Linked DNA regions of Homo sapiens: regions 2, 3 and 4 are each reported to be linked to region 1. Evidence: microRNA targets listed by miRTarBase, many of them from high-throughput screens and not tested one by one. Region 1 holds a microRNA gene; each other region holds the end of a gene's coding sequence.
What was found. The annotated mature microRNA hsa-miR-501-5p reads AAUCCUUUGUCCCUGGGUGAGA and lies in region 1 at 3,912-3,933, shown strand. An mRNA with a match to its seed (bases 2 to 7 or 8) in the 3' UTR can be bound and repressed. Matches are read on the target gene's strand: a 7mer-m8 pairs with bases 2 to 8, a 7mer-A1 pairs with bases 2 to 7 and ends in A, and an 8mer does both.

Region 2: miRTarBase lists SIX1 as a target of hsa-miR-501-5p. Seed matches in the 3' UTR shown: 7mer-A1 at 4,110-4,116.
Region 3: miRTarBase lists FSHB as a target of hsa-miR-501-5p. Seed matches in the 3' UTR shown: 7mer-m8 at 4,323-4,329.
Region 4: the mRNA of NELFE is a reported target of hsa-miR-501-5p. Seed matches in the 3' UTR shown: 7mer-m8 at 3,894-3,900.

Annotation. Positions count from the first base shown.
Region 1 is chrX:50,005,824-50,011,421 of GRCh38, forward strand. It overlaps MIR501 (microRNA 501), which reads left to right and starts at 3,899; the gene lies at 3,899-3,982. The region is part of intron 3 of CLCN5 (chloride voltage-gated channel 5); the gene reads left to right. It overlaps MIR500A (microRNA 500a), which reads left to right and starts at 2,608; the gene lies at 2,608-2,691. MIR362 (microRNA 362) reads left to right here and starts at 3,141; the gene lies at 3,141-3,205. It also overlaps MIR500B.
Region 2 is chr14:60,640,803-60,648,930 of GRCh38, forward strand. SIX1 (SIX homeobox 1) reads right to left here. Exons shown (of 2, transcript NM_005982.4): 1 at 7,828-8,128; 2 at 2,619-5,775. The coding sequence ends at 5,481. MIR9718 (microRNA 9718) reads left to right here and starts at 7,846; the gene lies at 7,846-7,909. RefSeq lists enhancers at 3,102-3,664, 6,094-6,716, 6,717-7,338, 7,339-7,960, 7,961-8,128.
Region 3 is chr11:30,230,891-30,239,018 of GRCh38, reverse strand. FSHB (follicle stimulating hormone subunit beta) reads right to left here and starts at 8,005. Exons shown (of 3, transcript NM_001382289.1): 1 at 7,971-8,005; 2 at 6,958-7,153; 3 at 3,825-5,449. The coding sequence starts at 7,116. The coding sequence ends at 5,219. The region is part of intron 1 of ARL14EP-DT (ARL14EP divergent transcript); the gene reads left to right.
Region 4 is chr6:31,948,345-31,955,996 of GRCh38, reverse strand. It overlaps NELFE (negative elongation factor complex member E), which reads left to right. Exons shown (of 11, transcript NM_002904.6): 5 at 704-778; 6 at 901-938; 7 at 1,105-1,442; 8 at 1,555-1,699; 9 at 1,863-1,917; 10 at 2,166-2,268; 11 at 3,599-3,910. The coding sequence ends at 3,696. CFB (complement factor B) reads right to left here. Exons shown (of 18, transcript NM_001710.6): 7 at 7,485-7,623; 8 at 7,036-7,167; 9 at 6,653-6,754; 10 at 6,440-6,577; 11 at 5,850-5,947; 12 at 5,594-5,711; 13 at 5,225-5,378; 14 at 5,053-5,129; 15 at 4,753-4,853; 16 at 4,524-4,656; 17 at 4,393-4,442; 18 at 3,913-4,122. The coding sequence ends at 3,967. Among named protein-coding and RNA genes, the nearest start is that of MIR1236, 4.8 kb to the left of the region's middle.

The DNA of each region.
Region 1 (5,598 bases):
GCCATGTCTTCAAGAAGCCCTGGTTTCTTTTAATCAGACATGATATTTAAAGACCATATTTGCCTCTGGATTGGTCATTGTATTTAGGCTTCTACAATGATCAGAACAGAAAAATGTTTTGTTTTTGTGTTTTCTTGTTTCTAGATAAATACATCATGATTCCATTATACTTCTGATTCAAAATCAGGATTACAGTTTTCTGTGTCTTTGCTTCACAAGTATGGTTCTGACTGTTGTATGGCAAATAGGAGGAGAAAGTGCAGAAACTGGGAGACCAGTTAGGAGGCCATTGAAATAATTCAGTTGAGAGATGGATGGAGGCCTACATCAGGGTGATCGTGGTGAAGGTAGTAAAAAGTGGTTATATTTTAAAGTTACAGCCAGTTGAGTTTACTGATACATTGCATGTGAAGTGTGAGAGAAAGAGGAGTAGGAGACTGAGCCCTCTCTTCCCTCTTTGTCACATATGAGTTGGGTACATATGCTGACACTGCCTCTTTAATCTGTAGCATCCGCATGCAAGTGCTGTCCCAGTGCAGTACACCTGGGCTAGGACTCACAGATGGTATGTTATGCACAGAGCAGAGAGTGCCTGTCACCTCTCCTAGTTCCTTTCAGAGAGCTTTTTGAATGCCTGTTGGATTTGGGGATCCAATAGTGGCAAGAGCATCAGGGACCCTGGTTTTACTGTGGGGTGAGCTTGTGCCAGAGAACACAGTTCATCATTCCCATTCAGCCTGCCTTCATGTGTTCAAGGGGCTGGAAAAGGGGAGCTTTTTCTTTCCTAACTCCCATGCTATCCTTGGGGTACAGGTGCCTGAGCCTTCTCATTTGCTCCTTCTCTTTAATCCTTGATACTGGTACTAGTGCTCTCCACATGCAATGCACCTTGGCAGGGATTCAGATGGGGTGAGCCTTAGCTGCAGATGGAAGGACAGAGCCCTTGTACATCGCCTACCTCTCCTGCTGCCTGCCAGTATTATTTACTCCTGTAGGGAGCCAGAAGAGAACAGTACAGCCACAGTCCCCTGAGTGTACTGCCTAGCTAGCACATATAGGAGGATAAAGCTCATTTGTACTCACTGTGCAGGTGTGCACACATGCTGGGGATACTGGAGAATGAATTTACTTTAGTTCCCACCCCCCAAGCACCCCACCTTGTCCCCCAGGATGGTCAGGCATCTAGGGATGTAGACCTGTATACACGGAGTCCCACTGATCAGGTAAGCAGTGGGTGGTTCCTTCCTGCCCTAACTCTACTCTCTTTGCCCTCCCAGAAAGGGCAGTGAGCTGTCTCGGCATTCTTCCCTTAGGTAGCTGTTGAATGAAGATGCACTTCCTTGTTAATGTTCTCTCTCACAATCACAGATACACAAATACTCGTATATGCACATGTGCACAAGCAAGGCATACAGGAGAATGAGCATGCAAGGGAGGCCCACATGTGGCTGGGTGCCCAGCATATGCAGACATGTGAGCATACAGGGACAGGAGAGACAGGAGCCTTTTTGATTATACTCACAGGGCCAGATGCCCCCATCTTTACTCATTTTCTGTCTCTCTCTCTCTCTCTTTCTCTCTCTCTCTCTCTCTCTCTCTCTCTCTCTCTCTCTCTGTCACACACACACACACACACACACACACACACACAGAGAGAGTGGAACTTCTGATGTTTTCCTTCATATCCCTTATGTGAAGGGGCGTGAACTTTGTTGACCTAGGGAGATTGAAGGAGAACCTCATCAACTCACACGTGAGGAATTTAAGAGGATGAATCTGTGTATCCCCTTGTGCAGGCACTCACACTCACAGATACTCGGACCTCTTCTCTCTCACCTGTCCCTTGCATGCAGGAGTTTCACCATCCCCCTTAAAAATGCACATTCATTCAAACACATATATACATAAAAATAGAGAGTAAGAGGTAAAAATATTGACGGCTGTGTGCCAGGTACTATACTTTATTTCATTTTCTTGACACCATTTAAGAGGTAGGCTTTAAATTGTCCTCATTCTTCAAAAGTGTTTAACTTGACCTTGGGAAAATCAGGTCGATTCTCTAGGCTAATATGTGGTAGAGCGTGCATTTGAACCAAGGTTCGTAGATACCAAAGTGCCTGGTTTTTCCACTACATTAGTGATTCTCCCAGTGTAGTCCCTGGACCAGTAGCATCAGTATCACCTGAGAACTTGTTAGAAATGCAAATTCTTGGGTCTCACCCCAGACTCACCAAGTCAGAAACCTCTGTAACCTGTATATTACCCAGGTCTTCAGATGATTCTGGTGCATGTTAGAGAACAACTGTGCTAAACTGTACTGCCTTCTTGTTGCATAGTCACACAAAGCATTTGCGGGATCATGAGCTTTGGCGTTATATTCATTCTCTCTTTCCTCCCTTTCACACTCCTCTCTCCTCCCAGTCTCTTTATAGGTTTATACTTTTTTGTTGTTACTATCTGAGAGAACAGACAAAATGTGTGTTTAACTAGACATCTTTAATGCAAAGCTCAAGAACTGTTCTCTTTACTTCTATATCATGACAAGTAAGTACCTTGTGTGAAGAAGAATGAGCCCTCTCACTGAACATTCACAGGGCTTTGTGTTCTGCTCCCCCTCTCTAATCCTTGCTACCTGGGTGAGAGTGCTGTCTGAATGCAATGCACCTGGGCAAGGATTCTGAGAGCGAGAGCTTCATCTTCGTGTAGGACAGAGCGTCTTTCTGTCCTCCTATCATCCATTCCACAAGTATTTATTGACCACCTTTTCTGTATATGATACTAAGTTGAGTAATGAGCATACAGTTGCTAACAAGACATGCTTGGTCCCTACCCTCATGGAGCTACAGTTGAGGAAGAAGAATGGAATTCCTCATCATCCATTACACCTACATGCCCTGAGAGTGGGTGGGCCACAGAGTGGACTTCTCATTACCACTGTCACCCACAAACATACACAAAAGCATGAATCTTCTCTGATCTCACATGGAACTCTGCAGGAGAAAAGATTCTCTGCCTTTCTGTAAAGTCCCTAGTAAATGACACTGTATATACATGAGAGTGAGACTTGGTTATAGCTACACATGCACACATACAAACACACAAAAAGGGCAGGTGTCAGAGCCTTCTTGTCTGCTCCCCCTCTTGAATCCTTGGAACCTAGGTGTGAGTGCTATTTCAGTGCAACACACCTATTCAAGGATTCAAAGAGGCTGAGCCTTGTCTACATGTAGAAGGACCAACAACCTGTCCCCTTCTTTCACATGTTTGTGTTTGCTATGCGGTGCCAGATCCTGCACTGGGTGGTGGAGATACAACGGTAAATAAGACAGCTAAGGTCCCTGGGCTCTGTAGAGGGCACCTGTGGGAGAATGAACTTCATCATTGCCCTGGACAAGCTTACACCTCTTTGAGAGCATGAGCTTTCTGTTTACTCCCAGCTTACTATGTGTCAGATACTGTAATGGGGAAACACACATTGGGTGATGAGACTTGCACAGCCAGTCTTTGCTCTCAGTGAGCTTATAGTTTACCAGAGAAACAGAAGAGAATGAAGTATCCCAATTTTCTGTACCATCTTCCAACATGTGCATGTACATGTGTGCCCACATACAGTTTGTCCCAACCTCCTTGCTAGGCCCCAAATACATCCAGCACCTGCAGACCCTCAAGTGTGATCTGAAAAAGATGCCACTCATATCTTTCATTCTAGTCTGAGGTTTTGTCTGAGAGGGCATGTCCATGTGGCCTTGTGCAGGGGGATGAATACATATGCTATCCCTGAGGAGAGGCATCTGTCTTAGCAAATGCACACAGAGATACTTTGCAGGAATGGGACCATGAAAGTCAAATATATATGGAGATATACATGCAGGGTGCAGGTGCCTGAGTCTTCTGCTCTGCTCTTCCTCTCTAATCCTTTGTCCCTGGGTGAGAGTGCTTTCTGAATGCAATGCACCCGGGCAAGGATTCTGAGAGGGTGAGCCCCCTCTGCGTGGAGAACAGAAGATCTGTATGTCACCTCTCAGCTGCTTGCTGCTTGCCTGCCTGCTCTCTGACCCTCATTCATTCTTTCCTTCCACAAATAATATGTATTGGGCACCATGATGGGCATTGGACACAGAGAAATGAACAAGGCAGACTTCGCCCCTGCCTTCCTGGATATTATAGCCTGAGAGGAGAATGGACTTTGTCACCACTCATTGCCCCTGCATATACTGAGGGTGAGTGGGCCACATAGGAACTTCTTATCTACCCTCTTCCCACCTTAACCCACCCATAAGTGTGAGTCTTCTCATTCCTGCTGTCACATTGATACTTGTTTCTTGTTTTTTCCTTCTTTCCTTCCTTCCTTCTTTTCTTTTTCTTTCTCTTTCTTTTCTTTCTTTCCTTCCTTTCCTTTCCTTTCTTTTCTTCTCTCTTTTCTTTTCTTTCTTTTTTGATGGAGTATTGCTCTGTTGCTCAGGCTGGAGTGCACTGGCACCATCACAGTTCACTGCAGCCTCAACCACCTGGGCTCAAGCGATCCTCCCACCTCAGCCTCTCAAATAGCTGGGACCACAGGCTTGTGCCACCATGCCTGGCTAATTTGTGTTTATTTTTTGTAGAGATGGGGTCTCACTATGTTGCCCAAGCTGGTCTCAAACTCCTAGGCTCAAGCAGTCCACCAGCCTTAGCCTCCCAAAGTGTTGGGATTATAGGTGTGAGCCACTGCACCCAGCCTGATACTTGTCGAAGCAACTTCTCTCTACTTTAGTTCAATGCAAGGTTAATGCACTAGGCAAGAACAGCAAGCCTTCTTGTTAGATGCACATGTGAGGTGTACAGGTACTGGAATCTCCTGTCCTGGTTCCCCCTCTCTAATCCTTGCTACCTGGGTGAGAGTGCTTTCTGAATGCAGTGCACCCAGGCAAGGATTCTGCAAGGGGGAGTGACATCTTCGCATAGGACAGAGCACTTCTACCTCCTCCTTCCATCCTTTCTATGACTATTTGTTGAGTACCTACCTACTCTATTGCAGGTGCTGTCCTGGGCAGTTGGCCCACAAGAGAATGAGCCATATCTGGTTCCCTACCTTCATGGAGTGTACAGTTCAGGGAGGAGAATGGACTCCTTCTCATTCATTATATCTGCATGTCCTGAGGGTGGGTGGGGTACAGGGTGGGTGGGGTACAGATACATGTTGGAGAATCTACTAAACCTCAGTACAATCACACATAAATACGCTGTGTGCAAGAGAAAGGGCCTGACTTGGTTACATCCACAGAGACATGTCCTCACAGAGTGGTCCCTCTGACCTGGTGCATCACTCACATTCTTTCAGCCTGTGTGCCAGTACTGCCTTGACTCACTGTCCCTTTTCAAGAATTCCAAGGGAAGAAGCCTTGTCTACACTTAAAAGGACAGAGCTTTTGCACATCAACTCTCCCTCCTCTTCCTTCCACAGATACTCAAGTGTCTATTAGACAGCAGGTATTATGTTCATCACCAAGGATATAGCAGGGATCAAAATGGACAGGTTGCTACCCTACATTCTGGTAGGGACTCATAAACACACTATACATAAATGTTGTGGATGAATAGGCCACTGTTCAAAAGAAT
Region 2 (8,128 bases), not on the chromosome of region 1:
TTAATTACAGTTGGGTAGCCACTTCAGGTAAGCTTAAGTATGTGTTAAATCTGAAGGTAACTGTTTTCTCTTTCCAAGATAAGATTGTTTGAGTTTTGGGTTTTAGGTTTTTGCTTGTTCCTGCATTTTTCTGTTTAATCACAAAAAAAAAGAATGTTATTTCAAGAATATTTAACATATGGCAAAGGAAAACAGTGAGCACTCTCCCGAAAGGAGAGGGGAGGAGGGAAGATTCTCAGGTAGCAAAGCGGGAGGGAGCAAACCTTAAGGTGATGGGTTGGACTCTATCTGCTGAGAACTGGGGTCTCAGCTGTCCATTAACAAGTTAAAAGGCGAGAAACTTAAACTCCATTGGAGAAGAGACAGGCGTCCACGCGCCTCAAGCAGTCTCTTTCTCTTTGTTTTTAAACGCTACTGCAGTGTTGTTTCTCGCTGTCTGAAAGGACCACAGCGTCTAAAACCCTGATTGTCATCCTCAGTGGGAGAACAGGTTTCCAATTTCATCAGCTGGACCCAAGTTGTGTGTGTGAGTACTTGGTTTAAAATATTAGAGAAAATGCAGCCTTTCCAGGGCAGCGCTTTTTCTGGGTAGACCAATAGCCAACAACTCGCCTATGATTTTGGCTATTTTTGTTCCTGGCTGGCTCACACCACTCGTATCTAACTCAACCCCTTTAGATATTCTTCCAGGTGGAATTATTGGATTCGGTCAGAATGGGGGAGGGGCCACTATGCCCTTAAGAGGCTCAGAAGTGCCTACCTGGCTAAGGTCGCGGAACACGCGTGCAGGCGATGAGACTGAGCCTTCGGGTCCCTCAGTGTGAATTGTCCATGGGGGCGCGGTGGGGACACACACTAGTGCGCTGGCTTCGGGCAGCTGAAGGAGGTAGTCTCCGAGAGTTTTTAGAGTCCCCTCCAAGGGAAAGCTTGGAAAAAAGAGAAATGGAGCGGAGAGAGCACGTGGGCTACCAGCGACCACCCTCACCTTAAACCTAACCCACCTGTCCCTGTCAACGCCACCCTAACAAATCAGGGCAGAAGGTGAGCCGCGACAGCCTGACCCGAAGCGCGCTGCAGACCTAGGCTGGTGCCTTCCCCTTGGGGCCAGGGCTGTGCGTGGGGGACAAGGCCGCTGCTCTCCCTAGGGCCGCTGGCTAAGAAGGAAATACCTGACCTGGCCCCACCAAGAAAGTGGAGCTCCTCCACCCCCAGTTCTGCTGGAGACACTAGAAGCCAGGGCCCCTCTCTCTGCCGCGGGAAGTTCTAGCGACAAGCCCAGAAAGTGACGTCCTCTCTACCTGGCACCCCTCCTCAGAGCGCGCGGGTGAAGAGTTTGGGTCCGAAAACCAAAGCCAAGACCCCAGGAAGCGAAGAAGGAGACAGGAGGTGTCTGAAGCAAGAAGGGCACTGGAGAATCGGCAGCAGGGCCTAGGCCGCCTCCGAACCAGGATCCAAGGCCTGCGCCATCTGCCCTGTGCGGGAAGCGCGGGGCCTGGGAGGCAGGGAGCGCTCACACCTGCGGTCGGGCAGGAGGCGCAACGCGCTGCCAGGGCGGCTTTATCCTGCCGCCACAGGGCGGGGACCAGCCCGGCAGCCGGGTGTCCAGCGCCGCTCACGTGCCTCGCCTGGAGCTTAGCTCTCAGACTCCGAAGAGGGCGACTGAGACTTGGGCCTGGGAGTTGGCTTCGGGGTACCCAAGGCGACGACAGCTGAGTTGTACCACGAAGCTCAGGCCGAGGCCTCCTCCCTTGTCTGGCCTTCGAATCCATACTGGCAGCCTCTCCTCTCAGGCACTCCGCGGGCCGGGCCACTAGGCCCCCTGCTCCTGGAGCTGCGCTATGATCCGGGTCTTGAGATGCGCGCGATTCTCTCTGAACCGGTGGAGAGGAGGCTCTGCCCCGCGCGGAGCGAGGACAGCGGCGCCCGAGCTTCCCGCGCCTCTCCAGGGCCCAATGGCAAGAACAGCCTCCGAAGTGCGCGGATGACAGGAAAAGATCTTCAGTTCTTCTGCCGCTAGAGAAGTGCGGGATACAAGCCTCTATTGGATCCACAACCTGGAGTCCTGCCTTCGGACTTTGCCAAAGACTTGCAGGCGGTGGGGAGGCAGTAGGAAATGAAGCCCCCTCCAGCCTCAGCCGCCGCCGCGTTCGGTGCAGCAGCAGCAGTGCCACTGCCACAGAGCAGAGGAAGGCCCGCTCCGCGCGAGTTCTGTGCCAGGTGTCCCGTTGGCCCTCAGCGGACAAGGGAGAGCCGCTAATAAGGGTCGCTGCTCAGCAAACTCAGAGCTCATCCATAAGTGCCAACGCCACTGCTTCTTTCTGGAAGCTTCCACTCCGGCCCGGGGTCCGGCCCCAGCCACGCTGTCCTAGCCCAGAGAACAGGTTCAAGAACGGTGGTGCCCAGCCCCAGCGGTGCCCTTCTCCGTCCCTGTAGCTCGCTGGGCTCTTGAGCCCCTACCCACTAAGCCAAAAATTCGGGAACCGGGAGCCAAACCCCTTGGCCTCTGAGAATTTAGGAAGCTTCGTTTTCAGCCAAGAGGTCAAGGCGAGCAGAGAGTGGGGACTCGAACAATCGCGTGTTTAGGTTTAAAACGTTAAAAAATAAACATCACTCGAGTGTTTTTTTTTTTTTTCATTTCACTTGGCACAATGCTGTATGGTTTCGTCCTACAAACTATTTATAAGCCGTTGTTCATTACTTTTGGCTACCGTTATGACATCTGTAGAGGAGAAACGAAAAGTGGCTTTAGATTCAGTTAAACTGCGACGCCCAGAAGGTAAACTGGAGGTCCCTTAACAGCTGGTTCTCGAAGATTTCCTCGAGGGAAGAAAAAAATATGGTTAGTTTCCCCTAATGATCTCTCTGAAATGATTGCCAAAAAAACTCAAAGCAATATCCAGCTTTCTCGCCTCCTCCTGCTCGCCCCTTTTACCCAGACTGAGCCGAGGATGGCGGAAGGAGGCACATTGTGCAATTTCTTATTAAACACATCTGGAATATGCGCGCTCTGGATTTAGTGCCAGGGGTTTTACAAAGAGTTTATGACTGTGACAGAAAATTGTCCTTTTAACAAGTTTACAAGCAGTAATCACGGGGGCTTTTACAGGACCAGCGCTCTTGCTCCTCGCCGGATCTGCAGACATTTCCAAGATTCACCAACTAAGGGAGCAGGAAGTGGGCCGGGGCGCCCTGCGAGACACAACTTCCACGAGCCTAAAATTATCCCAGGCGGAGCTGGGAGAGTGGAGGGTAGTCACCGGAGTAGGAAGAGACGGCATGTAAGAAATTAAAGTAATTGGCCCTTCCTATTTTCCAGAGAGATTTCCGCAGCGTCCTTTGAAGCCTGTCAGGGTCATTGAAAGCTATCTTTGTGCAGGGTGTTTGTTTTGGGGAGTGAATGTGAAGAATGTGAGGAGATTCCCTGTGAGAGCCCCTCCTGCAGAGGGTGGCATTTCTCCGTGGCCCAAGACAGGGAGAATAAACACCCTAGTGACTTAAATAAACACCGACTTAATGATCCAAAACACTAACAAGGGAGATTGGGACCCTGAGCTCCCAAACCAAATGATGGTCTCTGAGTGGCTGTGTGCACATCTGTCCATCACTGAGGGGGAAAAACGACTTTATAAGTAAAAGTGTGTACAGTTAAGTACAGTGACCATTTCTCCCTGGAACTCAAAGCTATTTGACAGTTTTAAAAAATAAGGCCTTGATTTCCCCAAGCACACCTCAGTTTTCTAGACCAGAACAGAAATAGGAAAGAGTAAGAAAGAAATAATATATTAATGGTGACAATTATAGATGGGAAAAAATCAAAATTATGAAACTGTCATGTCAGAAAATAAATAGATTCTCCCTGGGGAACAATATTTTACAAAGCACAAGCAAGCCAATCCTGTTATCCTGAGTAGAATTTTAATAAATAATGCCATTTGTTTCACTAATTTTAAAAGCTAAATACAGAAGATACATCATTTTGCCCCAGGCAAAAATAATATGGAGCCTACATGATTACTGGGATTTTTCTAGACACCATCCGGCAGCACTGCAAAAGAGCTCCTGTCCTGCTGGTCTGCTTTCTATTTGTACAAATTAATTCACAATGTTTCTATCCTTGTTCTCCTTCCCTTTTTTGTCTTCAAGCAGATAAATTATTTTTACTTTCACAGTCTTGTCATAAACTTGTTAACACAAAAGAGCTTAGTTAACATATGAATGCTGTGAAGAGATAGTGGTAAACAAAATTGCATATCTAAATAATAGAAGTTAATAAATACCCCAAGGCTAAATTCACTCTTTCTGTCATATAATTAATCTAGTTACTACTCTTGGTTCAGATGATGGCCTTCAAAGTACCCTGCAATTCACAGCCACCATTAAGTAAGAAAGAAAAATATATTTAAAAAAAAAAATAGGGCCCAATGACAGCAATACACCACTCACCTTTCAGAAACAGAATCATACTCCTGGTGTTCTACTAAGTTTTAATTTAGACTGCTTTAGGTACAATAGAAAAGAAACCTGAAAACACATGCTGTTTTAGTAACAAATACCAGGTTGCCAGATTCGTTGGCATACCTTTGCAAACTAGAAACTAGAAACAGGAGAAACCCTTTACAGGAGTAGGCTACAGATATGAAAGCTTTGAGGGCATGAGTAATGGCATTCAGGAAAGTGTTTTTTCACATTGGTACATTTTTAGAGTTTGTCATTTAAAAAAAAAAAACCCAAGAAAACAAACAACAACCAAAAAATCCCACTAAATTTGACAAAAATAGTTGCATTACTAATGGTCACGTCTATTTCTGTCTCACATAGAGAGCATTAAGACATTTAGGCACTTGTTTTTTCCTCCTAATACTGGTCTTTTATTTTAATCTACATTAAATTGTTTAACACTAAATATGAAAAATGTAAACTTAATTTTTCCTCATCAAAGAAAGTTATAGATTGTATTTTTCCTGTTCACCTTAAGAATGTAATCAGTTCTTCTGAGCCTGGAGGCTCTTATTTTCACTATTTTTATCTCCCTTTCTCTTTCTCTTTCCATTTCCTTTCCCTCTTCACATTTCTCCATATATAAATTAAAAGGAAATAATGAAAATCCAGTTGATTTGCAATTCCCATTCATTGAAAAAAAAGAAAGGCTGCTGAAACAGGCGTATCAGTTGCCCAGAACTCAGACTGGGTGCCTGGGTGCTTTTGTTTGTTTGGGTTTTTTTTTTTTTTTTTCCCTGATCTCTGCATTGGGAAGGAAAATGCAAAAGTGGAAAGAGTTGGAGAGAAGAGGAGATTAAGCTTGAGATCGCTGTTGGTTTTGATTTTTAAAAAGATATTTGTGAAAGTCCACCATTCCTTTATGCGCAAACAACTCCAGAAACAAGCTGCAAAAATGTTCCTGATTTCTATTTACAAGTGTCCCTAGTCGCTGCAGTGGTTGCTGCTCCAGGAATCCCTTCGAGGCCCCAGTCCCTCCCCACTTAGGACCCCAAGTCCACCAGACTGGAGGTGAGGGGGCCGAGCAGAGAGTCTTGGAGCTGATGCTGGTGGGTCTGCAGGCCGTGACTGGGCTGCGAGGCTGTTAAGCCCGGGAGAGAATAGTTTGAGCTCCTGGCGTGGCCCATATTGCCCTGCAGCAGAAGGACCGAGTTCTGGTCTGGACTTTGGGGAGGTGAGAATTCCTCTTCTGAGCTGGACATGAGCGGCTTGCCCCCTTCCAGAGGAGAGAGTTGGTTCTGCTTGTTGGAGGAGGAGTTATTGTTTTCGGTGTTCTCCCTAAGAAATAGAGGACAACACCATATGGTTAAAAAAAAAAAAAAAAAAAAAAAGTAGGTTAAAAAAAAAGTGTGAGATGGAGGGAGGGGAGCTGGAAGGAGGAAAGGGCCATTGTGCAATCTGTCACCAACCCAAATGGAGGAGCTCTACCCTTCCACCCATCCCCAAGGGTAATGGGGGAGGTGAGGAGTCAGAGGAACCTGGAGAAATGGAGAGCTACGGACAGAGCCTCCTGTTAGGAGCCAGGTCCTTTTCTCTTCCAGATTTCAGAAAGTGATAGATTAGCAGGATTTATTTGAAACATACAAAATATATGTTTTAAATTTTGTTCAAGCAGTTACATTTAAATACATATAAACTAGCAACATATTTAAATGTAACTGAAAATCTTTCAATAAATAGATATTGGTGATAAAGAAATGATAGAGGACAGAGTCCAATGCACAAATGTTTGGGGTGAATCAAGTCCATTGCCTTGTTCGCATATGAGGAGACAATTAAACATCCCGTTTTCCTGCCCCAGCCCAGAGTTGGTGGTTTTGCAGACACAGAACAGGTCATGGGAAGTGGTGCCCAGCGCGGCCCAGTGACCTGAGTAAACACAGGGAGCGCAGCCAGTCTCTGATTTCATCTGGAGTCGGCCCTCGGGCCTGGCTTATAGGACGGCCGTTTTGTAACTAAAGGCTAACTGCAACCATACAATCCCTGTTCCTGTGTTACTTGCTAACTCTTCAGCCCCTCGTGTCCCCCTCTCAAACTTCCTACCAACACCCACCCCAACCCATCCTTTCTGGGCAGGGGAAACTTCGCCGCCCCGCACAGGCTGCCAGCGGGCGCGGCGCGCTGGGGCGTCAGTCCGGGCACTCGGTACCGGTTAACTTCAGGATTTCGCTTCCCTCGCCGCTTCCGCCTTCCGAGTGCTCGTCAGTCCTCCCGACTCCTAGCGCCTGTCTGTCTCCTTTCTTTCCCCTTATCCTCACAGTCTCTGTCTCCCGACAAGCCCATTTCAGCAGAATTTATCCTGGCTCTGGTTTTCCACCAAGACAAGAAAGGGAGCAAGATCTTCGGCCCCTAGTCTTGGAAGCGAACAAAGGAAAACCTAACCGGCCCCTGCGCTCAGGTTTTCCCCCAAACTCTTTGGCTTCGCGGAGCGCTCTCCCCGCCACAGCCACCTCCCCACCGTCCTTCTGAATCTCTGTCCGAAACGCTATAGAGAACAGAAGGAGCCTGCCCAGGTGGCCGAAGGTGTTGCCCCGAGGTGGGGGAAAGTAGAGACCAATTTTTAAAATATTGCCTTGTGAGCTCCAGTGCGAGAGAGGGCTGCGACTGGAGACCCTTTCCTCGTCTGGGCATGCGGCGCGGTCAGCCAGACCGACGGGCTGCAGTGCCGGGCCACGCGCGAGCGAGCACGGCGAGGATCAACCCTTTCTTAATTTGGGGCGCCGGGGAGTAAATGCAGCGCCAACTCTCCCCAAAGCTCTCTTTTTGTTGTATCTTTAAAAGTCTCCTCCATTTGTCCAGCTAGTGAGAAATGAAGCAGGCTACCTCTAAACCAAAAGACTATCAAGAGAGAGCTGTGGAGAACCAGGCGGGAGTGGGGGCAGAGCCAATGTCTCAGGCCAGCTTCACCCCTCTGGGGAGCAAGAGGAGAGAGGTTCGCGAACCTCAGCTCCCACCAAACCCCTTTCCTTGCGACACCAATCAACATTTCACTGCCCGTTGATTTAGAAACTCACTCTCCACCCACCACTCATAGCCGCGGCCAGCCAGGGAGGCATAAAGACCAAATCTAGCGCCAATATTTCCCGACACTCACATCCCAGAGAAACCCACGCGCGGGTGCTCAAAGCAAATGAGGCCCCATCCTTAGCAAGGAACCTCAGAGTTCATGAACTTTCGCTGCAGCGCCGCGGAGGGCCTGCGCGCCGCCCCGTGGACGGGCTCCGGCCGGCGGGGAGGACTTGGTGGCTGGTGCCTGCGGGGGCGGGAGGGGGCGGAGGAGAAAGGACGGCTTCCTAGGGTCGCCCGAGTCGCGGGAAGCACGCCGCGTACCTTTCCTTGGCCTCCGCGGCCCGGTCTCTTTGCCTCCGGTTCTTAAACCAGTTGCTGACCTGGGTGGTGGTGAGGCCGGTGGCCTCGGCCAGCTCCCGCTTCTCACGCGGCGATGGGTAGGGATTGTGCGCGTACCACTCCCGCAGGACACCCCTCGACTTCTCCTTGAAGCAGTAGCTGGTCTCCTCGCCGTCCCAGATGGTGCGCGGCAGTGGAAATTTTCGGCGCACCCGATATTTGCCCACGGCGCCCAGGGGTCGGCCGCGCAGCTTCTCGGCCTCCACGTAATGCGCCTTCAGCC
Region 3 (8,128 bases), not on the chromosome of region 1:
ACACCTGGCTAATTTTTTATATTTTTTGCAGAGATGGGGTTTCACCATGTTGGCCAGGCTTGTCTCGAACTCCTGGCCTCAGGTGATCTGCCCACCTTGGCCTCCCAAAGCGCTGGGATTATAGGCATGAGCCCCCATGTCCAGCCGAAAGTTGTACTCTTGAGAAATAATAACATTCTAAACCACTAACTGACAGAACAGATTCTTCTCTTGGCCAAGGGGACCCCATAGAAAACTTGGAAGCTAAGTTCATGGCATGATGGGATGGGAGGTCCGAAAGGCTTCATGATATTCCCTCCAAGCTCTTAGGCTTTCTTCCCTAAGAGCTAACTAGACACCAGCTTTTTCAAAAAAAGTCCACTCTGATAATATCTACTAGTTTATTTTCCCAGGTACAGAACAAAGAGAAGATGAGAGTAATCATTCCTTCACTCTACGCTGAGATGTCTGCTTCCTCCATTCCTATTTACTTTGTTCACCTTATCTTACATAAAATGTAGATTTACCGAGTACTAACTAAAATCTCACAAGTATGTAATCATTTGTCTCATTGCCGCACCGACTCCTCTACCTTTGTAAAAGAAAATGTATAAATATTAAACCTCCGAGAACCTCTTTGGAAAAACAGCCACAGATGTGTCTGTTACTTGAGTTTTTCCTGGATGCATCCTCAAACTGGCACAATAAACCTTGGTGACTGAGACGTGCCTTTCAATCACTCATTTTGGTTGCCACTATGATTACTACTTTCTTTTCTCCTATTGTACAACCACTAAGCCAATGCCATATGTGCTAAGGTTTTCATTAATGCAACACGCCACTTCCAGTACCAATATTTGTAAGTTAAAATAATGCATTTTTTAAAACGAATAAACTCACAAATGTCAGTGACTAGAAGTTTACGGTGTTGATGCATAGCATCCACACAGCCTGCTATAAGGGGTTGTTGATATTGGGCACACTGCTCCATGCAGACATTCGGGGATCCAGGTTGACAATGGTTCTGTTTTCATCAACACAAACTTTCCTAGTCACCTTCAGGATTGACATCCAGCAAATAGAGGAAGAGAATAGATGATCACTTATGAGAGGTTTTTATGGGCTGTGTGTGAAAATATGTGCAGTACTTCTGCCCACATTCCATTAGCTGGCACACAGATACACTTGATTGCAAAGAAGGTGGGAAAATGTTGTCCAGCTTTATACCCAGGAAGACATAGGCACATATCTTCGTAAGTAGATTTGAATTCTCTACCTCTGTCACTAAATGCATACTAATGATTGAGGCTTTGCACACTAGCTGTGTGACTTCAGACTAGGCTCCGGGCCCATTTCACTTTTCTTATATTAGGCATAAAATCTAAATTAAATGTACAGTGCATAAAAAGATGCCATGTTAGTTGTCAACTAGTAAACACTGAACATGCCTACAGGAATATAGTAAACACCTGTACAGCAGTCTCCTAGTTTTTTATATATTAACATTATATCATATTTGTAAGAAATAGAACATTATAAATACAGTTTGAGGCTCTCTGGGTACTTTTCCACAGTTCCATTTCTCCTTCACCTTCCTCACTACCATGAACTCAGTGTTTATTATTCTTATGTACTGGCCTCACATTTTTATGATTCAAGTGCTGCTGACTTACTGACCAGTTTTCAATTATAGTCCACCAAATATCTCATGGGATGAATGGCATGGTATTTTAGTTAAAGCATTTCAGGAATGGAAGGCCCCCAATCCTTCAATCCTCAAAACTAATCTCTAGATTCAGCAACCCTTGTGGGGAGCGGAAGAGGTAAGAAGTTAAATAATCAGAGGTCAGACCATGATAGGCCTCATGTTTCAGCTAAGAATTAAGATTTTTTTTCCTGAAAACAATTGGAAAGCTCATTAATTAATTGGCATGGTCAAAGTTGTGGTTTAGACACAATTTTTTTTTTTTTTTTGAGACTGAGTCTCGCTGTGTTGCCCAGGCTGGAGTGCAATGGCGCGATCTCGGCTCATTGCAACCTCTGCCTCCCGGGTTCAAGTGATTCTCCTGCCTTAGCCTCCTGAGTAGCTGGGATTACAGGCATGCACCACAATGCCCAGCTAATTTTTGTATTTTTAGTAGAGATGGGGTTTCACCATGTTGGTCAGGCTGGTCTCGAACTCCTGACCTGGTGATCTGCCTGCCTTGACCTCCCAAAGTGCTGGAAATACAGGCATGAGCCACCACACCCGGCCTAGACATACAATTCTTAAAGTCATGCGAGGACTGCCCAGAGCCAAGAGATGTCCACCATAGTGCTGAGAAGGGATTATCAGACTTCAACTAAAATGACAGCCCATGGAGATGGACCTTTTCTTGGCCTCCACCTGGAGGGTTCACAGGTTTTTGTTGCTGCTCCAGAAAGGAGTGTACTCCTATTTGGCATGGGAGTGCCGTAAGAAGAAACTTCTGCTTTTTACTCGCATTTTGACCTTGGCCATTTGAACTAAGTGGTAAAGGGGACTCTCTCCAGCAGGATTATAGCTCTGTTGGCCTCTGAAGTGCTTTAACTGCATTATATTTTTAAATCTGCCAGCAACTATGTGAGATAGTTACCATTTTTACTCCATTTTAAAAGTGAGAAAGGTGAGACCCAAAGGGGTTAACTAGTTTGCTCAGACCAGAAAGAGTATGAGCTGGGTTGTCCTTAACTTAAATCTGACTTTACCATTTTACTGCATTGTCTCTCTCAAGGGACAACCATCAACTAATATTTATTGAGGAATTACTATGTGCCAAGTACTGCTCTAAGCCCTTTTATCTGTTATTTCATTAATCATGAACACAACTCTCTAAAGCAGGAAATATTATTATCCCCATTATACAGTTGAGGAAACTGAGGTCCAGAGAATTTAAGTAACTTGTTCGAGATGACACATCTGCTTAAGATGATTGAGACAACATAAATCTGAAGCCATTGTCCTTTACTCTCCCTAATGTAAAGGTTTATTATTTTGGTCTGCAAAACTACAGGAAGAAGGAAAAGGCTATAATTTAAAGCATCTTATTCAACATTGTTAATATAGCCCTAATTTCAATGCATTGCTATAAGCCACACCCAATACCAGATTAGAAGGGACAGAGATGATTATTATAATAATATCTGTAGTTTTGCTTCAATCTTTACCAAAATGACTTCTTATTATGGTGGAGTAGTCAAAGGAGAGCCGGATTAAGAGCAAGGAGGCTAGGATTCTAATCCTGGCTCTGCCACAAACAGTCTTTGTGATTGCTGTGGTCTGAACGTTTATGTTGCTCCAAGATTCATGTTGAACCCTGATCTTTATTGTGGTGGTATTAAGAAGTTGGGCCTTAGGAGGTGATTAGATCATGAAAATGGACCTCTTATGTATGAGATTAGTGCTCTTATAAAAGAGACTTGAGGGAGCTTTCCGTTGTTTCCACTGTATGAGGATGCAGCAAAAAGTCACCAGCATTGAAGTAGGGAGCAGGCCCTCCCTCCCCAGACAAGAAATCCGCTGGCACCTTGATCTTGGACCTCCCAGCCTACAGACTGTGAGCAATAAATTTCTGTTGTTTATTAATTACCCAGTCTAAGGTATTCTGTCATAGCAGCCCAAAAGGACTAGGACAGTGATCTTGGGTGGGCCACTTAATATCACTGGGCTTTAATTTTTCCATCTCAAAAATTCAAGAAGTAAACTATAGAAACTCTAGTATCTCCACCCATTCTGTGATTCTCTCTATGCTTTTTTTCTCCCAAATTACATCAGAAAATGTCTTCAAAAAATGACAGGAAATTTAAGTGACAAAACACTTCAGAAATCCAACAAAATTATTTTTAATATCTCCAAAGATAAGGAAAGGTAATATTTATAGAAACACTGGGAATTATATTTTAAGATTTCATTCCACTAATATTATAAAATACAGAATATCTAAGTCATCTGTTTGTACATAAAACAATCCAAGCCTGTGACTCTGGTGGCTAGCATCTTTATTAAAAAAATAAGATTTAAATAAATTAGTTAAACAATATGAGTGTGAAACTGAGTGCATAACTAAGACAGTTAACACGTTTAAAAGAAATCAACTCATGAAATAGTTTTAATATATAACCTGTTGAAAGAAAGCACAGATTTGGGAGAACATGGATGGATAAAATAGAAGATTGATGTAGACAGGATCCTAGAAAACAGCAGTTTCCCCTCGTCCCCCATGGCTAATTCTTTCTAAAGGAGCTATTTATTTATACAAATATATTTGTAGACAAATTAATTATATTTATTAAATTGCTGAAACTGCTTTCAAACCTACTTTCAAATCCTTTGTCATTCCAAAGAAGTGGATCCTAGGGAGGGTAGGGTGAGATAGTTTGGTTTTTTCCCTTTATCTCAAAAAGGAGTTTTGCAGGAGCCTAGTAGCATGTGATCAATTTGTTTAAGTAATGAATAGAGGCAGGCTAATTTCCACAGCCCCAAATTACAATTTCTTGCCTTTGCCCTTAACTAACAGGCTTGGTAGTAATAGCTTGGAAATCTTGAGCTCTGTTACTCCCCATCTGTACCAAACAATTCAGAAAGATACATCATGTCTCAATACTCCATGTGCTGGAGAAAAGGCGAGGTGGAACTGATGCCACTAACTTTCATGGGACTGGTGTGGCTGCGGGCAGCCTCATCAGCTTACCTCAAACATCGTCTTCCAGTATTTTCTACCCTTGACCTTTCTGATCTAAAGAAGTCATTGTTGTGTTTCTAAGTTCCAGGCAGAGTGCTAGGCATTGACGCTACAATGCTGAAGATGCTGACCTTGCTCTAGAGGGCCCAAGAGTCTACCAGAAGACTGCTGCAGTTAGTTCTTTCACTCACTCCCATTACTGCTTCCTCCTTCTAGGCTTATGTTTCCCCCTAAGAGAGAGGCATTGCCTGAGAAGATTTCTAAGATTTTTAAAGAAGAAACCAGGCACAAGTCTGTGAGTTAAGACTGAATAAACCTTATGAAATCAGACCTAGGAATATAGAGCTGAATCATGATGGAGTCCTGGCCCCCAGCACTCTCAATTCCCAGAGTTCCCTCTGCCAGTAGACCAGGGATCAGTAGAGTCTGAATCCCCTGATCCAGTGGTTTGTCCCCTGGGCACATTGCACACACACAGACTTTTTGAATATCTTGGTCCTTCAGGACAAGGGTATGTGGCCTGAAATGTCCACTGATCTTTATTCTTTCATTTCACCAAAGGAGCAGTAGCTGGGCCCCAGGCCTCGCACAGTACAATCAGTGCTGTCGCTGTCACACTTGCCACAGTGACACTGGGTGGCCACTGGGTATGTATACAAGGAATCTGCATGGTGAGCACAGCCGGGCACTCTCACTGTTTCGTATACCAGTTCCTTGAAGGTACATGTTTTCTGGATTTTGGGCCTGGCTGGGTCCTTATACACCAGATCCTGAGGAGTTTAAGAAGAGAGTTAGGTTATGGTATTGTGGAAGTTCCTATTTAGCTTAGTCAAAATGAGACAGAAATTGAATACTGCTTGCTCTAACATTTACCCATTAAAACATGACCTCATAAATGACCTATATGCTATTTACATTTCTAAATTGTTCTTGAAATCTTCCAGAAAATACAAGTAATTTCTTTTCTTACTTCCTATGGCTATATCAAAATATTAACTATTTTTCAAAATATAAAGGAACTTTGAATTTTAGCATAGAAAAATGATGAAAAACATGACAGGATTTTAAGTTGACTTTTCATATTTAATTGAAAGCTGTATTAATAACAAACCATAAACAAAGATATCCAATGTCTCAGAAAAAATATTTTAAAATACACTGCCCTGAGTATTTATAAAAGGTCAAAAATATATAATTTTAAATTTTAATGCTTAAGTTAACATGTTTGCTAAGGCTAACATAAGATTTTAAATATTCCAACTCCTTGTGGACATTTTTCTCCCTTGAAAGCTGTATACTTTGCAGGGTTCCTAGTTTCAAAGGATATGCAGTTTGCATATAAGAATTTTTAATCCAGGTAGAAATTATTTGTAGTAGCACTTTCCAGTGGAAAAATTATTTATACTGCGTAGAGAAATTGGGGCTTCTGTTTATTTTAATATCATCCTACCAAATGTATATCCCAAGAAGGTGCAATAAATTGTGTAATAAATGGAGTTTGATCAAACTCATTTACCGTCAAATAAAGTATCGTTCATTTAAAAAGTTGCCATTTTCAATTTTAGTTTATAGAATGAAATTCTGCATAGATAATTAGGGGTGCTGCAGAGAAAAAAGAAAGCACCATGGAAACTATTTCTCTACTTGTATTAATGCAAGGAAACTGCAAACACAGACTAGCAACTGATGCCTCTATGTCTTGGTTTTCTCAATGCTATAACGAAGGGAGTGGGTTTGCTGATTCATTTTTGTTCTAACAGTCTGCAAGAATTGATTGTGTTCTCAGGCTGTTTTTTGGCATTTGTATTTAGTAGGGCCAGGAAGACAATTTTTTTAAGTGGCTGTCTATGTTTTTATGTGACTTGGAGACATATTTTGGTGTGATTTTGTGTCAAAGATGTAGTGTCAGTTAAAGAAATTGCCTTTATGAGAATATTATAGGTCCTTTATGATTAAATATATGTATGTTTCCATGTTTATCTCTCTATGTGTAAAAACGTAACATAGAAATACTTTTTCCCTGTAGATGCAAAGTTGGACTAGTACCAAATTGATCAGATTAAATCTGAGGCTTTCCTAAATTTACCCAAATCAAATCCAAGCCCAAACATCTAAGTGATATCGTGGTCATTAACCCCAATCACAACACAGACAGTCTTGGCTAAAGGACTCATGGCTGTTACTTAGAATACATAAAATATTGATAAAGTAGAAACTAATGAAACCGGCCTAATACAGACCTTCAACACCCTTGCTTCCAGCAAAACATGGTACCTACCCTGGTGTAGCAGTAGCCAGCACACCAAGTGGTGTTGATGCTTATGCAGAAACGACATTCTTCTTTCTCTATTGCAATGGTGATGTTGGTCAGCTCACAGCTATTGCAGCAGATTGCTTTCCAGCAACAGAAAAGGAAGAAAAACTGGAGTGTCTTCATCCTGGTCTGGGAAGCAAACAATGAAGCCCACTAGAAACTGAGAAACCAAAGAACGATAATCATTATGTAAGCTGACCAAACCAAAAATAATTGGTCTGCTCATCCTCCTCAATCACATTTTGCTTCAAAAGTTTTTTTTCCTTCCTTATGCCTTTTTACTTACATCTTTGTTTCTTGGAACAACATTTTTCCTTGTCCTTCTTCAATTTTTGGGTCAGGGTGGGAATATATTATAGATCAAAACTCCAATATAATGATTTAAGCAGAGGAATATTTAAAGATTAGAATCTTATTGCTGACTGTCATAAAGTAATTACTCTGATAATTGTGATCATCATATTTGTTCTTCCATTATTATTTTAAAGTCTATTTTTGTCTGAAAAGAAAAATAAAATTCTTTTCTTTTCTTGAGACAGGGTCTTGCTCTGTTGCCCAGGCTGGAGTGCAGTGGTATAATCATGAATCACTGCATCTTCAACCTTCCAGGCTCAAGCAATCCTCTGACCTTGGCCTCCCAAAGTGCTGGGATTACAAGCATGAGCCACCATTCCTGGCCAAGAAAATTCTATACTACAAAATTATGTCTTCATTTTTAGAATCTCATAAATATTTTCTTTTGCTCACATTTGTTTAAAATAAGACCATTTCAGAAGAGAGGCATATTGGTCTATAAAGTCAGTTACTTGCTAACAGTGATTACGTTATATTAACCATATTTTACAAGCCAGGTTGACAAGCATAAATTTCCTACACAACAGTAGTGAGAAGCTCTAGTTTTGTCCTCCATGTCCTGACAAATCTGTAATTTCAAAAGTAGCTGTCACCACTTGAAAACGGTAGATGCCAAGACTCACCTGTGGTCGGCTGCCTTGCCTGGCAAGAGCTGTAGACTGAATGAAATCTCAGTTCACCTTTTATACAAAATCATGTGCAACTAACACCTTGTGGATTTGTTGGGTATTAATATGACCAATGCTAGCCTGAAGCTTGCTGTAAGTGAATCAGTGTTTAG
Region 4 (7,652 bases), not on the chromosome of region 1:
ATTGTGCCACTGCACTCCAGCCTGGGTGACAGCGAGACTCCGTCTCAAAAAAAAAAAAAATTAGCAGAATGTGGTGGTGCACACTTATAGTCCCAGTTACTGAGGAGGCTGAGGCCAGAGAATCACTTGAACCCAGGAGGCAGAGGTTGCAGTGAGTGGAGATCACACCACTGCACTCCAGCCTGGACGACAGAGCAAGATTCTGTCTCAAAAACAAAACAAAACAAGCCACAATGGCAGGTGCGGCAATGGCTCATTCCTGGTTAATTTCAGCACTTTAGGAGGCCGAGGTAGGAGGATTGCTTGAGCCCAGGAGTTTGAGACCAGCCCTGGCAACATAGTGAAACCCTATCTCTACAAAAAAAAAAAAAAATACAGAAATTAGCCAAGCATGGTAGAGCACATCTCTAGTCCCAGCTACTAGGGAGGCTGAGGTAGGAGGATTGCTTGAGCATGGGAGGTCAAGGCTGCAGCAAGCTACGATTGCTCTATTGCACTCCAGCCTGGACAACAGAGCAGGACCGTGTCTCAAAAAAAAAAAAAAAAAATAAGTAAAACCACGTCAAATAAGAAATGTATGTAGAATTAAAAGGGAAGAAAAGATCAGAGGAAACCTAGAAGAGGGTGAGGGAAGAGGAACACCTCTGGTCCATGGTTGGGCAACCTCCTGCTCCACACTGAGGTAGGTCTCTCACCACTCCAGGACCCCGAGAAGGGACCAGTCCCCACTTTCCAGCCGTTCCAGAGGAGCATATCTGCTGATGATGACCTGCAAGAGGTAAAGGCTCCTAATTTCTGTCCCTGAGGGGTTGGGGATGGAGGAATATGAGAGACAAATATATTTTGGACCACATGTCAGCAACTGGAAATCATCTTAACTGTTCTTGGTCTCTTTTACAGTCATCCAGACGTCCCCAGAGGAAATCTCTGTATGAGAGGTTAGAGAGTAGAGATAAGGCTGGGCCCATTTGGTGGAGTTGATTGCCTGAGTCCTTGGGAGGTTTGGGCTGTAGGAGCTGGGCTATAGAGGGAATATTGAGTCTCCACAGGGTCTGAGGGGAGAAGGTAAAACCCCCCTTTGATCTTCAGTCTGCATCTCCCCAGCTTTGTGTCTTCTAGTGATCGACTTCGAGAACTAGGACCAGATGGAGAAGAGGCAGAGGGCCCAGGGGCTGGTGATGGTCCCCCTCGAAGCTTTGACTGGGGCTATGAAGAACGCAGTGGTGCCCACTCCTCAGCCTCCCCTCCCCGAAGCCGCAGCCGGGACCGCAGCCATGAGAGGAACCGGGACAGAGACCGAGATCGGGAGCGGGATCGAGACCGGGATCGAGACAGAGACAGAGAGCGGGACAGGGATCGGGATCGGGATCGAGATCGAGACCGGGAACGGGACAGGGATCGGGAGCGGGATCGAGACCGAGACCGAGAGGGTCCTTTCCGCAGTGAGTGATTTTGGCTGGAGGTCAAGGTGACCTTAACTGAGGTTTATGTGGGTCCTACTAAGTGAAATGTGGCATGGTCTATGTCTTGTGACTATGATTTGTGCTCCCAAAGGGTCGGATTCATTCCCTGAACGGCGAGCCCCTAGGAAAGGGAATACTCTCTATGTATATGGAGAAGACATGACACCCACCCTTCTCCGTGGGGCCTTCTCTCCTTTTGGAAACATCATTGACCTCTCCATGGACCCACCCAGAAAGTAAGGATGACAACAGGGCATGATGAGAAGTCCTGGGAGAATCCTGGGGTGTGAGACCTGAGGGAAGAAGCTGCCCTCCCTGCAGCCGCCTATTATCACTGGGTTTGGTTGGGTCCAGAAGAGCCCCTTGGCTCTCCACTGACCGTGTTTTCTCTTATCCCAGCTGTGCCTTCGTCACCTATGAAAAGATGGAGTCAGCAGATCAGGCCGTTGCTGAGGTTGGAACTTCCCAAATCTGTTCTTCCCATCGCTTCTGCTGTTCTCATGTGTTCTCCTCAAAATACTAGATGCCAGGAAGAAGTTGGTTCCTCTTGATAAAGAAAGCCTCTCCCTATTCACACAGAAAAACTCACATTCTCAGATTCCTTATTCAGTCTCCTCCTAGGATAGCAACTCCTGGAATAACTTCTTTGGTTTATCTGTAATGTTTTCCTCCCCATCCTCTGCCTCCCCTCTTCTGCTTCAGCTCAACGGGACCCAGGTGGAGTCTGTACAGCTCAAAGTCAACATAGCCCGAAAACAGCCCATGCTGGATGCCGCTACTGGCAAGTCTGTCTGGGGCTCCCTCGGTAAGAATGGGATTCTTCCTTTCCCATCCTCTCCCCCACAGGCCATTCCTTTTGGTTCCCCCACACATCCTTGGGTTTCCTAGAGATGATCGAGGTCAGAGTGTGTGCGGAGGCTATGGGAATGGGAAGGAAAATTTCAGATCCTCTGTCAGTTAGAGGTAAAGAAAGGAGAGAAAAGGATTGAAAACAGCTTCCAAAGCAGTGACTGGAACAGGGAAGAAAGTGGGAGCTGGAGTGAGATTGGTGAGGAAGATGAGTGTCTCATGGGGCTTGTTCATTTTGAGATGGAGTAGAGTGAGTTTCATAAGTATTCGAAATCAGGGATCTGGAACTCAGGTGTGAGGTAAGGAAGGAAAACATAGATTAAGTCATCCACATCACAGGGTGGCTGCCAAACAATAGGATCATCAGGGAGACTCTGATTTCAGAGAAAAAAAAACGACCCAGGACTCAGTTTGAGGAGTACTCTGGGACTATGTTAGGAAACAGGACTGTTCACCTCACACCCCACATGTCCCCAGCTGTCCTGACATGTTAGGCTAACGTTGAGCCTAACGTTAGCAAAGGAGACAGGAGGAGGGGTCGGAGGGCTGGGAGCAGCACCGCAGGGGCCTGGGCCACTGAAGCAAAAGGACACACACTTTGAGAAAGAGGGAGTAGCCAGCAGTGTTGAGGCACAGAGATCACAGGATGGGAGTGGGTGAGAGAGATTCTCTGTAGCTCAAGGGTGGTGGGGATGGAACCATTGGATGGGGTGAAGAGAGTAACATGTCTGGTGGAGGGAGGAAAGAGGAAGGGGAAGAAACAGCTAGAGGCTTGAGAGAGAATGGTGAGGGCCAAAGCTACACCCTGAATGAGTTCTGGTGGAGCTAGTAGCATTTCTTAGTGTGAATAATCCATTTTCCCTGAAAGTAGATTTTCCTGGGAAAGGAGTGAGCAGAAAGAAGGGCTCAGCTACAGTGGCCCTTCAGGCAAAAGAAAGGAACTAGAATTGACCAGCATGTCAAAAAAGGGCTACAGAGGTTTTCTAGTTTTTAGCTTCTGACATACTGACTGTAAGTAGTGGGTTAATATCATTCACGTGTCTCAACAATGACATTTGGGATTTTTCTAAGAACAAAACATTCATCAAAATGTCCACTTATACTTTTCTTGGCCATGGGTTGGCACAAAGGAGCTAAGGAAGACAGGCCATCCTGGCCACCAGAGGGCAGCGTGGAAACTGGGCTTCCAGGGGCCAGTGGCCAGGAGTGAGGTGGTCAGGAGTCAGCCTCAGGGTCTGTTCTATGATCTCCTTTAGACCTTAACTGTTCCTCTCCTCCCTCCCTAGCTGTCCAGAACAGCCCTAAGGGTTGCCACCGGGACAAGAGGACCCAGATTGTCTACAGTGATGACGTCTACAAGGAAAACCTTGTGGATGGCTTCTAGGGAACAGAGCTGGATTCCTTGTGCCTCATATGCCCCAATGCTGGTCTCAGTAAAACACTGAGGTGGAAGCTTACACATCTCCCTCAGCCTCTGGTTTTTCAGCACTTGGGATTGGGGTTAAACCTTTAAAAACGGCTGTCAGGTTTGATCTCAGTGTAACAACATGGCCAGTGCCTGTTCCCCACTCCCTTGCCCCAAAAGGATCTGGAACACAGGTGTTGTCGCAGCTGTTTTAATTCAATCCCACGCCCCTGTCCAGCAGGAAACCCCTTATAGAAAACCCAAATCCTCATCTTGGAGTTTCTCCTTCAGCCAGGGCAGCACTTGAAAGAGGTTGATGTGAAAGTCTCGGGCGTGAGCAGGTACCTGCTTTTGCCGCTTCTGGTTTTTGCAGACATCCACTACTCCCCAGCTGATTACACCAACCTGCAGAGGCAGTGGGGTGCCATGGATCATTCAGTAGAATTCCTAATCCTGGAAGCATGGCTGTTCCTGCTTGTGTCTTAGCTGACCTAAAGGAATCAGACTAGGGACCCAGCTCAGCCTCGTTCTTGACACACGCAGGCAAGACATGCGGTCCTAAGGTGAGGCAGGCTCTGCCTACCTCGAATTACTAGCCACATGCATTGAGCTTTCCTGCTTTGGGGCCCATGCTGACCACTTGGCATCTCCCCAGATAGGAAAGGGAGGACTCACTTGAATGAAACGACTTCTCTTGTGAACTATCAAGGGGCCGCCAGAATCACCTGCAAGGAGAGGAGAAGCTGTAGAGAAAAGGACTGTTGGGCCTTGGGCACTTGTAGCACAACCAAAGAGCATTCTCTCACCTCTGCAAGTATTGGGGTCAGCATAGGGACTCACTCCTCCAGTACAAAGGAACCGAGGGGTGACCACCTCTGAGATGTCCTTGACTTTGTCATAGCCTGGGGCATATTGAGCATCTCTCTCACAGCTGCCTTTCTGTAGGGGAGGTGGGAAGCATGGAGAAGTAATGAACAGAAGTGGCTTAGGAAGGATTGGGGCCTAGAGTGCCTCCTTAGGATGCCCGTTTCTCACCTTATCCCCATTCTTGATGTAGACCTCCTTCCGAGTCAGCTTTTTCTCCTCCTCAGACACAAACAGAGCTTTGATATCCTGTGCAGGGAGCAGCTCTTCCTCTGGACGAATAGACTGCGTCACTTCAGCTGCTCCCACCACTGTCATCTCCCCATTGCCTTTGTCACTCAGTAGATGTCCCCTAAGCCCTTCTAGAGCTAGGTTCTGGGCCAGGCATCATCTCTTCCTATTGCACCTCCCTCTCATGCCCCACTTGTCTCTTGGGATCTCATCCTTATCCTCTTGCCAAGTATGTCTTACTTTGTTGCTGGCAAGTGGTAGTTGGAGGAAGCCTCAAAGCTCGAGTTGTTCCCTCGGTGCAGGGGAGACAAATGGGCCTATAAAGGACAAGGAGAACAGCAAACCAGGCCTGCTCCTCACCCCAGTCCTCCAGCCTTTCCCAGCCTTTCCTCAGGGATCTGGACGCTCTCACCTGATAGTCTGGCCATATTTCAGCTTATTCTTGAGCTTGATCAGGGCAACGTCATAGTCATAAAATTCAGGAATTCCTGCTTCTTTTTTCCCATTAATGTTGTAGTTGGGGTGAAATAGGACTACTTCTATCTCCAGGTCCCGCTTCTCCCCTCCTGAAGTAGGAGAGTAGGTACCACCTCTTTGTGGGCAGCTTCCTGCCTCTGGCCCCGTGTCATTCCTAACTTCACGTCTTCCCCCATCCCTGACTGGTCTGGGGTGCAAGGAATGGGGCTGCATTGAGGATGGGTGGAGTGTAGGATCTGTAGAAAGTGGGAGGTGTTGCCTGGAGAGCATAGGTGCAGCCCAGGACCTTCAGTTGCATCCTTACCTACGCTGACCTTGATTGAGTGTTCCTTGTCATCCACAGTGAAACAATGTGCTGCTGTCAGCACAAAGTACTCAGACACCACAGCCCCCATACAGCTCTCGTGTCCCTTTGAAGGGCGCTGGGGACACAACAGTAGAGAGGGAAAGCTCAACTTTCACAAACCACCATCTCTTATGGCCATTTTTTCCTTCCCCTACTCCCATTTCACCTTGACCTCACCTCCCCCAAGTCCCCACTACTGGGATTCTGTGCTTACAATGACTGAGATCTTGGCCTGCCATGGTTGCTTGTGGTAATCGGTACCCTTCCTGTGTTCCCAAACCATGCCACAGAGACTCAGAGACTGGCTTTCATCTGGCAGAGAAGGAGAATGTGCTGAAAACTCGGAACACTTCATTCCCAAATGGCAGCAGCCTTTTGGGTAGGAGTCTATGGGGAGCAAAGGCCCAAAAGGAGAAAGGGAAAGACCACGGGTATTTGTTTCCTCGTGTTAGGAGAAAACTGCTATGGTGGACTGAAAAGGGAAAGAACTTGGGATCAAGCTGTCAGAGGCCTGGCTGTTTTCAAGCCCACCCTTGTTGCTAACTTGCTGTCCCTTGACCTCCTTTGGCTTCTGTTTCCACGTGTCAAATGTAGGACTATAGAAAGATCTCTGAAGTGCTCAGAGCTCTGTGATTCTAAGGTTAAGTGAACAGTGCCAGGAAACAAGAATAGTGACACTGAGGTAGAGAAGGAGGAATGAAGAAGGCTTTCCAGGCAACTAGAGCTTCAGGTGTAGAGGAAGAATGAATTACTTCAGGGGAACCTGAGGAGAGTTGTGTTCTTTATTCCCTTGTATCTCCCTACCGATCATTTGGTAGAAAACATCTTCCAGGTTTTCCATATCCTTGACTTTGAACACATGTTGCTCATTGTCTTTCTTGGAAGCCAAAGCATTGATGTTCACTTGGTTCACCAAAGGCCCGACCCCAAACACATAGACATCTGAGGGATAAAAAGGAAGGATGAGGGTCCAAGCCCTGAGGAAGTGGGGTGCTGGGTCCTAGGCAGGTTACTCACCCAGATAATCCTCCCTTGGGTTTTTGCGATCCTTGCCAATGTATAGCAAGTCCCGGATCTCATCAATGACAGTAATTGGGTCCCCGCCCATGTTGTGCAATCCTGCAGAAGAGACAGGACCATGAGGGTAGGAGATAAGGAAGATAAACTGGCTAAAGGCAGGGATACACATGGCAGGGTGAGCAAGTTGAGGAAGGGTTAGAGATAGTTGATCACAGGGCTTAGGAAGAATTCCTTATGAAGGGTCACAGGAGAGATGAACAGCCAGCTATGAGTCACATTCAGGGCCCCAACCATGGGTATAGTGTTACAAGTGGACTTAAGGGCCACATGCTGGTCTGAGAAGGTGGGGAGGCTGGGACAGGAGAGAGGTCCCTTCTGACCATCAGTCATGAGGATGATGACATGGCGGGTGCGGTTCCAGCCTTCAGGAGGGACGTCATCTGGCCAGCTCATCATGCTGTACACTGCCTGGAGGGCCTTCTTGGTGTTAGTCCCTGACTTCAACTTGTGGTCTGTGGAGAGGGAAGAGACCATCACCTCACCTGGTCTTCCAAGCCATCTTTTAACCCCAGAGACCAATCTGCAACTGAAATCCCACATCTTTCAACTTTTTAAGTTAATCATCATTACACGGACTTCCCTTTGACCACAAAGTGGCCCTTCCAGCCCCCAACAGGTTCCCACTAACCTCCATTGCCCAACGATCCTGCTGTTCAACTTTTGACTACAAAGTGGTCCTCCCTGTCGCCCTCAAGGTAGTCTCATGACCCCCTCCACCCTGAACCTCCTGACCCCAAAGTGAACCTCCCACCATTCCCTAACCTCTGACCTTCATAATTGATTTCATTGAGCTGCTTCGTGACCCAGTCTGCATTACTGCTGTCTGCTTCAGACACTTTGACCCAAATTTTGGGGTATGTGGCATATGTCACTAGACCATATCTTGGCTTCACACCATAACTTGCCACCTGTGGGTGAGGAGAACAAGGCGCCATGG